Homo sapiens: one gene and its partners. The protein of the gene in region 3 purifies or fractionates together with the protein of the main gene of each other region. This does not show direct contact. Each region holds a gene or a part of one and is shown on either strand. Other genes may lie near its edges.

The links. Proteins that work in one complex are often made in the same cells at the same time.
Region 1: the proteins of CCT8L2 (region 3) and SIX4 purify together in Homo sapiens (affinity purification with mass spectrometry; one large-scale study listed by BioGRID and IntAct). This does not show direct contact.
Region 2: the proteins of CCT8L2 (region 3) and KIFC1 purify together in Homo sapiens (affinity purification with mass spectrometry; one large-scale study listed by BioGRID and IntAct). This does not show direct contact.
Region 4: the proteins of CCT8L2 (region 3) and ADNP purify together in Homo sapiens (affinity purification with mass spectrometry; one large-scale study listed by BioGRID and IntAct). This does not show direct contact.

Annotation. Positions count from the first base shown.
Region 1 is NC_000014.9:60,709,039-60,711,695, reverse strand, and holds the end of SIX4 (homeobox protein SIX4), read left to right. Parts: 3' UTR 1-2,157; downstream 2,158-2,657. UniProt on the Homo sapiens protein: Transcriptional regulator which can act as both a transcriptional repressor and activator by binding a DNA sequence on these target genes and is involved in processes like cell differentiation, cell migration and cell survival.
Region 2 is NC_000006.12:33,390,620-33,394,622, reverse strand, and holds the start of KIFC1 (kinesin-like protein KIFC1), read right to left. Parts: upstream 2,801-4,003; 5' UTR 2,638-2,800; coding exon 2,626-2,637; intron 1-2,625. UniProt on the Homo sapiens protein: Minus end-directed microtubule-dependent motor required for bipolar spindle formation. May contribute to movement of early endocytic vesicles. Regulates cilium formation and structure.
Region 3 is NC_000022.11:16,590,251-16,594,285, forward strand, and holds CCT8L2 (T-complex protein 1 subunit theta-like 2), read right to left. Parts: upstream 2,561-4,035; 5' UTR 2,301-2,560; coding exon 627-2,300; 3' UTR 501-626; downstream 1-500. UniProt on the Homo sapiens protein: Possible molecular chaperone; assists the folding of proteins upon ATP hydrolysis.
Region 4 is NC_000020.11:50,903,938-50,907,437, reverse strand, and holds part of ADNP (activity-dependent neuroprotector homeobox protein), read left to right. Parts: intron 1-2,588; 5' UTR 2,589-2,672; intron 2,673-3,436; coding exon of another isoform or gene 3,437-3,441; coding exon 3,442-3,500.

The DNA.
Region 1 (2,657 bases), on a different chromosome or scaffold from region 3:
CTCCTGCCTCAGCCTCCCGAGTAGCTGGGACTACAGGCACCTGCCACCATGCCCGGCTAAATTTTTGTATTTTTAGTAGAGACGGGGTTTCACCGTGTTAGCCAGGATGGTCTTGATCTCCTGACCTCGTGATCTGCCCGCCTCGGCCTCCCAAAGTGCTGGGATTATAGGCATGAGCCACTGTGCCTGGCCACATCTTGCTTTTTTTTTTATGATCAGAACAAAGGGCCCACTCTAGTTCTCTACATGTCAATCAATCAAGCATGTTGAATAAGGGACATAGAGGATTTAACTTTTGTTATCATAAATGGAACTTGCAGGCATATATCAAGAACCCTATGAAGAATTCCTCTCCCATCATTTTGATAAAGAACTACATCATTTTTGATAGAATTGGTGAATGTTCCTAAACTGCTGAAGCTACATGTTTTTTGTTTTGTTTTACAAAGTCAGGTGTTTGAGAGTTCTTTTCCACTCTACTACTACTCATAGAGCTTGTTTTTTCTTTGGGTGTGTGCTGATCCTGTTACTGAGATTAATTACATGGCTCTGCAGTGTAGTTTACATAAAAATGATGTTTTCCACTTGATTGCTGCAGATATCAAGAGTTTGTTATTTTCAAATACCCATCCAACAAGAGAGATGGGGAGGTTTTTAGTTATATATGCTATATATATATATATAACTGGAAATGTTTTATATGTTTTCCGAAAATACAATAAGCCTCTCTTTTATTCAGTGTTCTTCCTCTTTTCTCCCTTATGAAAAAGAAAAGATAGCACAAAACTTAAGACTTACCTAGGAAACCCATTCATATTCCCACCATGATGTAATTATAACCCTACAATTACTTCAGGTAGCTACACAATATACCAGGTAAGAATCAATGCACAGTATAAAGAACTTATTGTTCTTTTCTATTCTTTCAGTTGAATAAGGGCCAGTTGGTATGCAGCCCATGTATATGTGAATGGAGTAAGATAAACCCCATGATCTCCTTGCACAGAATTGCAAATGTCTTTTGCCATACCAAGGGCCAGACTCAGAACCCTTGGAGTCATGTGGCAGAATTTCCCTCTTACATAAACCAATGCTTGAAAATGCTGCAAATGACCCTCTAATGATCCCTGAAGATCAAAACAGGGGTAAATGACTCCCTGCAAAACCCAACCCATGCTGCTGGCTGTGGGATTTTTGGTGTAAGCCTATCTATGCACTCTATCAGCCAGAATTTGGCATTTAGCTCTTAGTTAAATCTAGTAAAGGACAGTCTATTGTTTAAAGAGAAGGTGCATTTGTTCCTCAATCAAGCAAGAGCACCTGTGTTGTACTGCTTTATATCTCATGTATATTTATAGTAATGAAAAGACTTTTTAAATTGTACACGTTTCAGTGCCTTTCTTGTGTTATGAAAGGCAGGTAGATATTATAGCCATAGGTAAAAATCCATAGTTAAATTGCACACTGACCTTAAATCTCTCTGTGTATGCCCTTGTATCTTGCATGTTAAAAGTTGGATTATTGGGCATGTGTGGCAGCCTGCCCTGCTACATGCTAGACAAGTGTGCTTTAGTACATAGCCACAAGTTCTTCATTCTTTAAAATGTTTTGACAGATCATCTCATAATAAAAATAATTCAGGAAAACTATGGGGAAATAGTTACATTTCACAAAAGATATTTTAAACTCTTTGTAAAACTTAGATAATAGAGCCTAGCAGTTACTTTGTATCTAATTGATACATTTTATGTTAATTTACCACCATACATTTTATTAATCAAAATTGTATAGCATGTGACTCTTTTGGCTTTCAGAGTTCTCAAAAATATTATTTTGTTGCATGTACTGTATGTTTAGAGGCAACCAATTATATACTCAATATGGTTTTACTGTGCCTTACACAAAGAGAAACTCTATACAGAATGTATATCATGGGGTGGGGTAACAGAGTCTTTACTGCACTGTTAGGTGATGGCACACAGAGCATGTCCCAGAACATTTCTGTGCTTAATTACCCAACCAAAGAGATCTGAAGTATGTATGTCGTACTGTAATGGGGGTTTATGCCTGGACAATTAAGTGTTTTATTTGTTTTCTGAAATGATGTGAACTTATTTTTCTAAACACTATGCTAAATAAACTTTATATTTATACATACCTTGCATTGAAAATTATTTGGGAAATATTGTGTTTTTTTAAATATGAATGACTCATCTTACTAGAAAAGAAAAAAGAAATAATGTTGGTTTTATTTATCTCTGGAAAAGGGAAGAAGAGGAAGGGAAAAAACAAACATTCCAAAAGCTGGCAAATGGTTATAAGGCCAATTGGAGTGATTTTGGAAAAATAATCTTTGTCAGTCGTTGTGCAGAATTATGCAATTAACTGTACTACATAGAGGTAAATTATTAGATTGCATCCTCCTTAAAAGGAAGAAGTGTACCTTCCCCTTCCCAGCATTTTTTGTTTTTTGTTTTTTGTTTTTTTGTCCCTAGAGATGAGTGTGATGTTTGGCACACGGCAGTTACTCTGTAGGGTTTAATGGAATTAAATTGAAGGGTCCAAAGACCTCCTATTTTCAACCTTATTGAAAGAGTTCAATATCACCCATCCCTAGGGCACTGCCATTAGCCAAAGTCTGGTACCACCACGGTTGG
Region 2 (4,003 bases), on a different chromosome or scaffold from region 3:
GTAATCCCAGCTACTCGGGAGATTGAGGTGGGAGGATTGCTTGAAGCTGGGAGGTAGAAGTTGCAGTGAGCTGAGATCACACCACTGCACTCCAGCCTGGGCAACAGAGTGAGAGACTCCGTATCAAAAAAAATCTCCATTTGGAAGTCTAATAACTGACCTCTTGATGTCCAACCCTGCTTTGAACTTGCTCCTTTTGCAGCTTTCTCCATCTCAATTGATATAACTCCATCTTTCAGTTGCTCAAGCCAAAAACCCAGAGTCCTCTCTTTCTCCTACATACCACATCTAATCTGTCAGCAAAGCATGGCTGATTGTACCTTCAAAATATATCCAGAATCCAATCACTTTTTACTGTTTCTTCCACTGCTATCACCCTGACCTAAGACACCATCATCTGGCACCTAGATTATCATAAACCAGTGGTTCTCAACTGGGGGTGATTTTATCCCCAAGGTGACATTTGACAATGTCCAATGCAGTCCTGTACACTGTCAGATGCCTAGCAGCATCCCTGCCCTCTACCCACTAGATGCCAGTAGCAACCCCCCACCTAGTCACGACAATAAAAAATGTTGGCCAGGTGCAGTGGCTCATGCCTGTAATCCGAGCACTTTGGGAGGCCGAGGTGGGAGGATCATGAGGTCAGGAAATTGAGACCATCCGGGCTAACGCGGTGAAACCCTGTCTATACTAAAAATACAAAAAATTAGCCGGGCGTGGTGGCAGGCGCCTGTAGTCCCAGCTACTCGGGAGGCTGAGGCAGGAGAATCGCCTGAACCCGGGAGGCGGAGGTTGCAGTGAGCCGAGACCGCGCCACTGCACTCCAGGCTGGCGACAGAGCGTGACTACTTCTCAAAAAAAAAAAAAAAAATGTTGCAGGGCACGGTGGCTCATGCCTGTAATCCCAGCACTCTCGGAGGCCGAGGCAGGCGAATTGCTTGAGCCCAGGAGTTAGTTCCAGACCAGCCTGGGCAACATGGCAAAACCCTGTCTCTATTAAAAATACAAAAAATCAGCCAGGCATGGTGGCAGCTGCCTGTAGTCCCAGCTACTCAGGAGGCTGAGGTGGGAGGATCACTTGAGCCCAGGAAGTTAAGGCTCCAGTGAGCCATGATCATGCCACTGCACTCCAGCCTGGGAACAGAGAAAGAGAACCTGTCTCAAAAAAAAAAAAAAAAAAAAAAAGGCAATGGTGCTATGGTTACGAAAATCTGGTGGACCCAACAAATCTTATCTCTCTGCTTAAAATCATCCAATGATTCCCCATCTCACTCAGAGTAAAAGTCCTCACAACGACCCCCACAAGGACAAACTGTGATCAGCAACCCCACTACCCATTACCTGACTTCCTTTCCCACAACTTTTCCCCTTGCTCACTTCATTCCAGCCACACTTCCCTCCTTACAACTCTTTAGGGACTCTGCTCTAGCAGATTCCCTCTGCCTGAAATGTTCTTCCCTCACTATCTGCTTGTCTGTCTCCCTCACTTCCTTCAAGTCTTTATTCAACTCATCTTTTCCATGGGGGTTACTGAGACCACCCTATTTAATACTCTAACCCGCCAGTTGGCCTCCCCTATGTCCTCAACCTTGAATTTCTCCTTTTCTCCACAGCACTTACGGCCTTCTGGCAGTTATATAATTCATTTATTACATTTATTGTCTGTATCCCCATAGAATGGCAGCTCCACGATGGCAACGATTTGTCCCTTGTTCACTGCTGCATCCTAAGTACCTACAACCACGCCTAGCATGTAGTAGGTGCTCAATAAATACTTGATTAATAGATCTGAGAAGGCTTTTACTACTTCTTACTGTCACATAATACTACTCTGCTCTCTGGTTGTCACGAGAGAAAGAATCTCTCTTAAGGCTGAATCCTAACTTCAGGGAAACCTGAACGTGAAATACTAGTAAACAAAGGATTCAGGCAGACCTTTCCTGGCACCAGAGATAAGTACACTCCAGCTGTCACACACATTCATCTCTCTTCACTGGAGACAGGAAGCTGCATATGGTTGTGGGGTGCAGCAGGGCACCATTTAAGAGAAAGAACTAAATCAATCAGTTTCATTGGGCAGGAATCTGCACAATTTGGGAAAGGAGAGAGAGAATGAGAAGTCTTTTGGCCCAGATTACCCTACTCTCCTTCTCCCTTTCCTACACTCCGAAGCAGCAGTGATAAGGAGAGGCGATTAACACAAAAGGACCTCAGCAAGGATGTGGCCTCAGACACCATGTCCCCAAAAGGAAGAAGTCATATCAGAACTCTCCCTTCTTACACACTGCAATCACACCCTGAGTAGGAATAAAGAAGTGGAAATGTGTCAGACGAGCCTGAGAATTCGAAATGAGAAATCTCGGAGACATGAAAGTTAAGGGAGGGGCTCCAGAAACTTGAAGCTAGGGGAGGGCAGACAGACGTGCCTTCCGACCTCCCCGGGTGCTCTAAGCCGTCTCCACTCCTGCCTCCGCCCCTTTCCACTTGTGCGGGGGCGCACGGACCTTCGCTCTCCCGGTAGACATGACAAAGGCCGACCGGGAGCCGGGGGCGCGACAGCATCGGAGCGGTCAGCCTTCGTCCCCATCCCCAGGGCAGGACACCTGCGCCGCCCCTACTCACCTGCGGATCCATGTCCACCTCGGTCCCACACGCGCCGGGGGAATGCAGTGGAAGAGAACTGGGTGCCGGGGATCCTGGGACTCGCGTTCTCTCGCCCGCTCGCGAAGCAGGGTAGAGAACTCGCACGGCTCCGGCCGCTACCAGCCCCGCGCCACACCCGCCACTTTTGAATTCCAACGGCCACCACCCACTCTCACCGCGCTCTGCACGCAGGGACCAATCGTCGCTGTCGCCACAGCCGAGGGCCAATCGCAGCGTTCTCCGCCACCCGAAGCCACACCCCGCCCGACAGGCGCCTTGTCTTTTCTGTTTCGCAGGCGCAGGAGAGGTAGGCGGATTAATTCCACTTCCGGTGCCACTTATGCTTCTCACCCCTCCCCTCCTCTAGCGGCAATAGTGCTGGACTTCCGCTCGGCTCCCCGCCGTCGCTCGCTACGTCAGAAAATGCGTGGACGTCGCCGCACGAACGCAACTGGCCAAGCGAAACTGGTGGCGGCCGGAGGAGAAGGGGCGGGGACGCTGGAGGAAAGAAATGACGCGTGCGCAAACGAGGACCCGTGCCGGGAGACAGGCGGGACTAGCGCCTCCTGGTGACTGCAGTAGGGAGCGCACTTGTTTTCCGTCGACGTGATTGAGGCTCCAGCGCTGCCTCTCCTGGTCGTGGTTGACTGGGCCCGGAAGTGGCTCCTGGAGCCCTCACGTGGATGTGAGTGGCCTGGTCTGTTCATTCCCTGGTAATGTTGCCATTTCTCACCAAATTTAGGAATTTTTGCGCTCCATTGAAGCCTGACAGTGGGGATTCAAAGCTCAGGAAAGAACTTTTCTTTATAGCCCTCTTCTCTCAGCCAGCCTACTTACCTGGGTGCTGTTACTGGTACTGGGCTCAGGGCCTTTGGAGTCTCGAGCTCGGGGAAGATTTACTGCTTCCATTTATGGAGTATTTTATGTTTTGCAGATTGTGCACCTGTATTATCTCGTCTTTTAATCACGAAAATTCACTGAGTTCCTACATTGTGCCACATTCTTTGTAGAGATGGATGGAGACAGGTTCAGAAAGATTACACAATAAGGTCACACTGCTGGTTAGGAATGGATCTAGATTCCATTAGCTTCAAAATCCAAGCTATTTCTGTTAACTCACGTTGCCTCTAACAGTCTCGGTGACAAGAGCAACCCCTTACGTGTGAATAGGGTGCTAGTTTGCAAAGTCGTTCTACCATATTTACTCATCCGAGTTTCCATCCAATCCTGGAGGTAGTCAGGACAGGGTTTTATTTATGAAACCGAAAGGCAGGGGCCTCAAGCATATGTTCGGGGATTTGGTGTGCAGTTGGAAATTGGCAGGTCTGACACCCGCGCTGCCGTCTTCTATCCATTG
Region 3 (4,035 bases):
GAATGCTCAAATAGTTGGGAAGAGATTGCTGCACTGTGTTTTGCACGCCCAAAGCCCACATAGGTACTCAGTTTAAAAATCTTAATAGAATTGAATCCTGCTCTTATCATAGGAAAGGAAGAGCATCTGATAGAAACACAAAATGAAAAGGTCAAGAACTGGCTGGGCACAGTGGCTCTCGCCTGTAATCCCAGCACTTTGGGAGGCTGAGGCGGGAGGATCATGAGGTCAGGAGTTCGAGACCAGCCTGGTCAATATGGTGAAACCCCGTCTCTACTAAAAATACAAAAAATAGCTGGGCGTGGTGGCGCGCACCTGTAGTCCCAGCTATTCAGGAGGCTGAGGCAGGAAAATCGCTTGAACCTGGGAGGCGGAGGTTGCAGTGAGCCAAGATCACGCCACTGCACACCAGCCTGGGCAACAGAGCAAGACTCCGTCTCTCAAAAAAAAAAAACAAAAAAAGTCGAGAACTGGAAAGGAACTAAGCGCATGAAAAGAAATTTTATGTTCCTTCATGTTTTTATTTAAAGAAAGTGAATCAAGTACCAAACACGGAATAAAGGCAAACATTCATTTTTGGGGTGATTGTTCCCTTCTTGGCAATCCCTGTTTTATTGAGGGTATCACTAGTTATTCAATCCAAGGATTTTTTTTGTTTCCACAGGAGGTGGGTGTTTCTTTGTCTTCTTAGAGTCAGGATTCCAGATCTCCTGATGTGTGGGACTTTTCTTGGCCACTACGATTTCATCTACAGTCACGAGCTGTAGCACCACCTCAGCCACTGCTCGAAATCCTTGGGCTTTGACTATTAGGGTGTCCCACACCCCTTCCTGGGCCACATTTATTATCCCTTCAGTTCCCACACCCATTAGGAGGTTCCCACCTTGGTGCACTCCACTCATTTCTGCCATCACGTCTGAGACAGCTAAGCCTGCATTCTCTGCCAAAGTTTTAGGAAGATACTTCAGGGCCCAGGCAAATGCTAGGAATGCAGGCCCACTGGGCCCTTCCAATCTGCTTCCTTTATCAGAAAGCATTTTTGCCAAAGCCATTTCTGTGGCCCCAGCTCCTGGAATCAGTCTGGGATCTTGACATAGCTGGAAATAGGCATCAATGCCGTGGTAGACGGCCTGCTCTGCACTCCGCAGCCCCTGGGTGGTGGCTCCCCTGAGAACCACAGTGAGGGCAGGTGTGCCTGTACATTCCCATTCAAATACCACAGCCAAACCATCTCCCAGCTCCTGCCTGTAAACCCTCTGGCACTTGCCTGGCCTCTGGGGAGGGAGCAGACGAGGCAGCAGAGGTGTGTCCAACACCTCACTCAGGTAAATGATCTCCATCCAAGACCTAGCTTGAATCACCACGATGCCATACTTGTCCGCCAGTGTGAGGGTCTCCTCGTCGACCTCCCCCAACACCACTGCCACATTAATTCCTGCAGCTGCTAGCTGGCCTACTTGCTTTTCTAGTAATTGATCGCTTCCTTTACTAAATTGAGCTAGATCAGCAGGACTAGAAAGACGGGCCGTTGCTGGTGCATTTGGATGGGCAGGACCAAAGGGGCAAGCAAAGAGAGCCACCCTGGCACCACTTAACACTGTGGCCATTTGCCCACAGAGCTTCCCAGATATTGCTAACCCCGGGAGGAGGCAGGAATCCTCCAGTGTCCCCCCGGGCAGCGCGCACACCCCAACACGCTCAGGCTTGAAGCTGCCGTCTAGTTCCTTGATAGCCCAGCAGGCGTGGGCCACCAGCTTGGTCAAGTGGTCCATGGGGGACAGGGTGTGGGTATTCATCACAGAATGGAGGGCCCAGGATGGATCTTCCAAAGGCCCCAGAGATTGGATGGCCAGGGAGGGCAGTGTGGCCAGGACCTCTGCAGTGGCCGTGGCGTAGGCCTCCCGGAGCTGCGGGCGAGGCAGGCCAGCCTTCAGCAGCTGCTCTGCCTGTTCCAGCAAGGCTTCCGTCAGCAGAACCACGAAGGCTGTGCCGTCCCCACTATTCTCTGCCTGGGTTTGTCCTGCTTCCCGGAGGAGCCATGCTGCTGGGTGCTCCAGCTCCAGGGCCCTGAGGATGGCAGTGGCACACCCCGTGCACACTGTTTCTCCTTTCATGGTCACCAGGAACTTCTGCCGGCCGTGGGGGCCATAGCAAGGCCGGATGACACTGGCCAGGGTCTGGACTGCAGCCAAGCTGCTCAGCAGGTGGGGCTCCTCCTCTTCTGGACTCCTCGGGCTCTCCCTTGGGTTCAGTGCCAGCCGCTGGGGCAGCTCCAGGGCTGAAGGGACTGTGCTGTCCATGGCCCGCAGAGAGAGGAGAGGCCACCGTGGGTTGCAGAGATGCTCTAGAAACAGCAGCTGGGGCACTCCTGACACCGATCGTTGAAAGTACTCAAGAGGTCAGTGGAAGCAAGGAGCCAAATGCCCATTGATTGGTATCTGAAGACATCAGCACGGACCAGCACTCCACTGTGGGTCCAAGGATGAGCTCCAAAGAGCCCAGTCCTAAAGCCACCCCAGGGTTGATTCTGTAAAGGAACTGGGTCTTGGGGCCTCTCAACCTTGGTGGCTGAAATGGGATCTTTAACTGATGAAGTCACAAAGTGGAAAATGGAACCAGGATAGAGAATGAGGTCACAGAAGGCTGGTTAGAACTGAGGAGGCCCTACCAGCAGGCAAAAGTCAGGCCTTGTCCAGCAATGGAGGTACATGCACCTCTGCACCAGGTTTGAGACTTGTTTAAACGTAAGAGACAATGAGGAGGAGATCAAGTGAAAAACTACCCATTTCACCCTATCTGGAGTGCAGGGGCATAACCATGGTTCACTGCAGGCCCAGCTCCCTGGTCTCAAGCAGTCCTCCTGCTCAGGTTCCCAAGTACCTGGGACTACAGGCACACACCACCACACCTAGCTAGTTTTTTTATTTTTTGTAGAGACAGTGTTTCTGTCTGTTGTCCAGGCAGGTCTCGAATTCCTAGCCTCAAGAGAGCCTTCCACCTTGGCCTCCCAAAGTGCTAGGACTACAGGTGTGAGCCACCACCTCACCCACCCTTTTTTTTTTTTTTTTTTTGAGACAGAGTCACACTCTGTTGCCCAGGCTGGAGTGCAGTGGTACAATCTTAGCTCACTGCAACCTCCACCTCCCAGGTTCAAGCAGTTCTCCTGCCTCAGCCTCTCAGTAGCTGGGATTACAGGTGCCAGCCACCACGCCCGGCTAATTTTTTATATTTTTAGTAGAGATAGGGGGATTTCACCATGTTGGCCATGGTTGGCCAGGTTAGTCTCAAACTCCTGGCCTCAAGTGATCCGCCCACCTCGGCCTCCAAAAGTGCTGGGATTACAGGTGTGAGCCACTGCACCTGGCCTTTTTTTTTTATTTGAGAAGGAACTGAGAGATGATGTCTGTGTTTTGTTTTGTTTTGGTGTTACTTTCTCTTGCAGTACTGTGTAATATTAGCCATGTTTTGCTGTCTGCCTTTGACTTTTTGGGTATCTTATCAGTTTGTGCTTGTGTATCAGGTTTCTTAGGGTGTCTGTTGGTCTTTCAGGGTGCAGGTGTGGGAGGCTGCACAGCGTGCATGCCTGTGCCACGACTCCCAACTCTGCCTCCCTGGCAGAGGCAGGGCAAGACAAGTGGGGAAGGATGCTGACAGCTCACAGACAAATAGAAGTGAACCCAGAGGGGTGAAAAGCAACCAGCCTCCCAGCGGTCAGGGAGGTAGAAGCCTAAATGGGGTCCTGAGATTTAAATGCGAATCGCCTTCCCATCCTAACCTTCAATGCTTACAATTTAAGTCTCTTTTTTTCATTCTCTCTCCTTTCCTCACTTGTCTCCTCTTTCCTCCTATAGAGCCTACTCGGGTAATGATGCTTCTGCTTTAGTTTAACACATATTTAGTCTGGGCGTGGTGGCTCATGCATGTAATCCCTGCACGTTGGGAGGCTGAGGCGGGAGGATTGCTTAAGCTCAGGAGGTTGAGGCTTCAGTGAGCCATGATTGCACCACTGCATTCCAGCTAGGGCAACAGAGTGAG
Region 4 (3,500 bases), on a different chromosome or scaffold from region 3:
AAAATTAGCACGATGTGGTGGTACGCGCCTGTAGTCCCAGCTACTCAGGAGGTTGAGGAAGGAGAATTGCTTGAGCCTGGGAGGCAGAGGTTGCAGTGAGCCAAGATTTGTGCCATTGCACTCCAGCCTGGGCAACAAGAGCAAAACTCCGTCTCAAAAAAAAAAAATGCCGGGCGCGGTGGCTGTAATCCCAGCACTTTGGGAGGCTGAGATGGGCGGATCACAAGATGGGCGGATCACGAGGTCAGATCAAGACCATCCTGGCTAAACGGTGAAACCCCATCTCTACTAAAAATACAAAAAATTAGCTGGGCATGGTGGTGGCGCCTGTAGTCCCAGCTACTCAGGAGGCTGAGGCAGGAGTATGGTGTGAACCTGGGAGGCGGAGCTTGCAGTGAGCCAAGATCGTGACACTGCACTCCAGCCTGGGTGACAGAGCGAGACTGTCTCAAAAAAAAAAACAAAAAAAAAAAACTGGAACCCTGTCTCAAAAAAAAAATACAGATTTCTCCTAGTTGCCAAGCCTACAGCAAGATAACATTTTTTGGTACAGCATTTCCCAGTAAGCAGTGTCACTGCTTTATTTATAAGCCTTTTAAATTCAAAATAGATAAGTAAACCCAACACCAACTCTGTGGCTGAAATACCGCTTTTTATAAATTACAAGTTTCTTACAACTAAGTTCCCTTATGGGCATACTCACTTTTTCAGAAAAAAATACCTACCAGGCAGTGAGATGCTTCATCTTAATGTCTTAAACCGACTTTTTAAGCTGTGGGTAGGCACTTAGAAGAATGGGTTTTTCTTTCCCCCAAGCTGCCGCTTGATTCTTTTTTATGTTTTCTATAGACTAATGACCCCAGTGGTGGCTGCATTTCCAAATCTTTATGTCTTTGTTTTTCTGAGATTGTTGAGCCACTCATCCAGGAGGCAGGGAAACCATTAATGGCTGGCTTCTGGACACATCTGTTATGAAGTGTGAAGCAGAGTTAACTCAGGAAGTTCCCAAAGAACTGAATTTTGGCCCATAGAGAGTTTATGAAATGAACAGAGAAACAAGATGTCTCTTCCCAGTCTTAGGTATCTGTGGGCATCCATTTTAATACCTGGTTTCTTCAGAATTAGCCTGTGACACTTTTCTGTATTTCTGAAATATTTTTCTAACATGTGCTTCTCTCTAAAAGACCTGGTTTGTAGTAACTGTATGTGTTTTTTGTTTGTCTGTTTTTGAGATGGAATCTCGCTCTCGCCATGCTGGAGTGCAGTGGTGCGATCTTGGCTCACTGCAACCTCTGCCTCCCGGGTTCAAGCGATTCTCCTGCCTCAGCCTCCCGAGTAGCTGGGATTACAGGCACGTGCCACTACGTCCAGCTAATTTTTTGTATTTTTAGTAGAGTCGGGTTTTCACCATGTTGGCCAGGTTGGTCTCGATCTCTTGACCTCGTGATCTGCCCTCCTCGGCCTCCTAAAGTGTTGGGATTACAGGCGTGAGGCACCATGCCCAGTGTGTACTAACTGTTTTAAATTAAGCAAGTGATAAAGAATTTGCTGGTTTTAAGCCACCACAAAAGATGGTTTAAAACAATTTAGCAATAAAATTTGGACAAAAAATAATTGATTTGGTCTTAATTTATATCAGAAGTGACTTCTAAGTCTGTAGTTGGCTTCACAATATGCAGATTATTAGCATAGCAGAGAGAGCAGGGGACACCATAGTCATTGCTTCATAGTGAGCAGCAATTCTATCTTGAGTATGATAAGGCCTAGAAGGTTTTTTTGAAATACTTTTCATTTTCGGCCCCAATTAGACTTTGGTACTTCATATAGAATATTTTGAGACTTCTAAGTTAGAGTAACGTACCCAGTTTCAAAATTTCTAGGGGTTACTCTTTGATTTTGGTAGATTTCACTCTTTCTCCTTTTATTTTCCATTTTTTTATAGTTAACGTTGATTTTGGATTAGAATAATAAATGAGGCAGCATTTTATTACATTTGGATTAGTTGACTTGCCATTTACAGATGATATTGGTATTACAGAGTAACAGCCTTTGTTAATTAGAAAACTGGATTTGCATATATTAAATTTTAATTCCTGGTGCTTTGTCTTTTGTTTTTGCTGTTTTGGGTTTTAGAACTACTTTATATCCTGCGAAATTGTGTTAGATTTGGATTATTAAATTGATAAATTTTTACCATATTATGGGAAGCATTTCTGATCTCATTAGAAACCATACATATTCTCAGCTGCCCAGGTTTTACTGATTTTATTTTCTCATTAAAGACAAACTTCTGTTTTAAGGAACTTGGGAAAGTTGATATGAATTTCTAATTTAATGTATTAGGTCATTAAAATAATTTTTGAGTTCCCTTAGACACATACAGGCTTTTCATTTTTTTCAAAAGTACCCTCCTTAAAGTCTGTAACAGTTAACATTTTTGAGTACCTTTGCCCAGGTACGTTGCAGGCAGGGGTGGAGTGGGGGCATGCATTGGTCGAGTCACATATCATTACTGTATTTAGTTTGGGGAGTATACAGAAACTTAAGGTTTTTTTGTTTTTGTTTTTGTTTTTGTTTTTGTTTTAAAGAATACCGTAGCAGTAGGCAGGACAGTTCCAATTCAACAAAAACCTCTTTACCCTGGCACTCAAAACTGTAATGATGATGAACTGGTAAGCATTTTTCTGTTTTCAGATGTTCAACATCAAAATGAGAAAAGCACTAACACTTGATTTAAAAATAATTGATTGCTAGTATTTCTCTAATTTTCATCTTGAAGTTCATTACTGAACTGTTGTTAAGTCTTATCAGAATTATGCCAGATTAGACTCATAGTCAAAATGTCCTGTTAAAAACTGGGAAAATCAGAGAGTACTTATTTTGCCTGCCTGCTTTAAGTATTCAAAATATAGTAGATATGTGCTCGGCTCAGTGGCTCACGCCTATAATCCCAGCACTTTGGGGTGCCAAGGCAGGAGGATGGCTTGAGTCCAGGAGTTTGTGAGCAGCCTTGGCAACATAGTGAGACCTAGTCTCTACAAAAAAATTTTAAAAATTAGTTGGGCATAGTGGCGCACTCCTGGAGTCCCTTCCTCTTGAGAAGCTGAGGTGAGAGGATCACTTGAGCCCAGAAGGTTGAGGCTATGGTGAATCGTGAGTGCACTGCAGTCAATGAACCATGAGTGCACTGCACTCCAGCCTGCGCGACAGAGTAAGACTCTGTCTTAAGAAAAGGAAGGAAGGATGGATGGATGGATATATCAAGCCATATGCACATGAAAGCAGGTGTGTGTCTGTGTGTGTACACACTAGATGAGGATATCTATGCACCTTTTTTGTCAGATGGGTAGGTTTTATGATCCTATCATCAGTGGAATTAGTAAATATTACAAGTTGTACGTGTTTTGACTTTGACTTAAATTTTTTTTTCCAATAGAAACTATGTTCCAACTTCCTGTCAACAATCTTGGCAGTTTAAGAAAAGCCCGGAAAACTGTGAA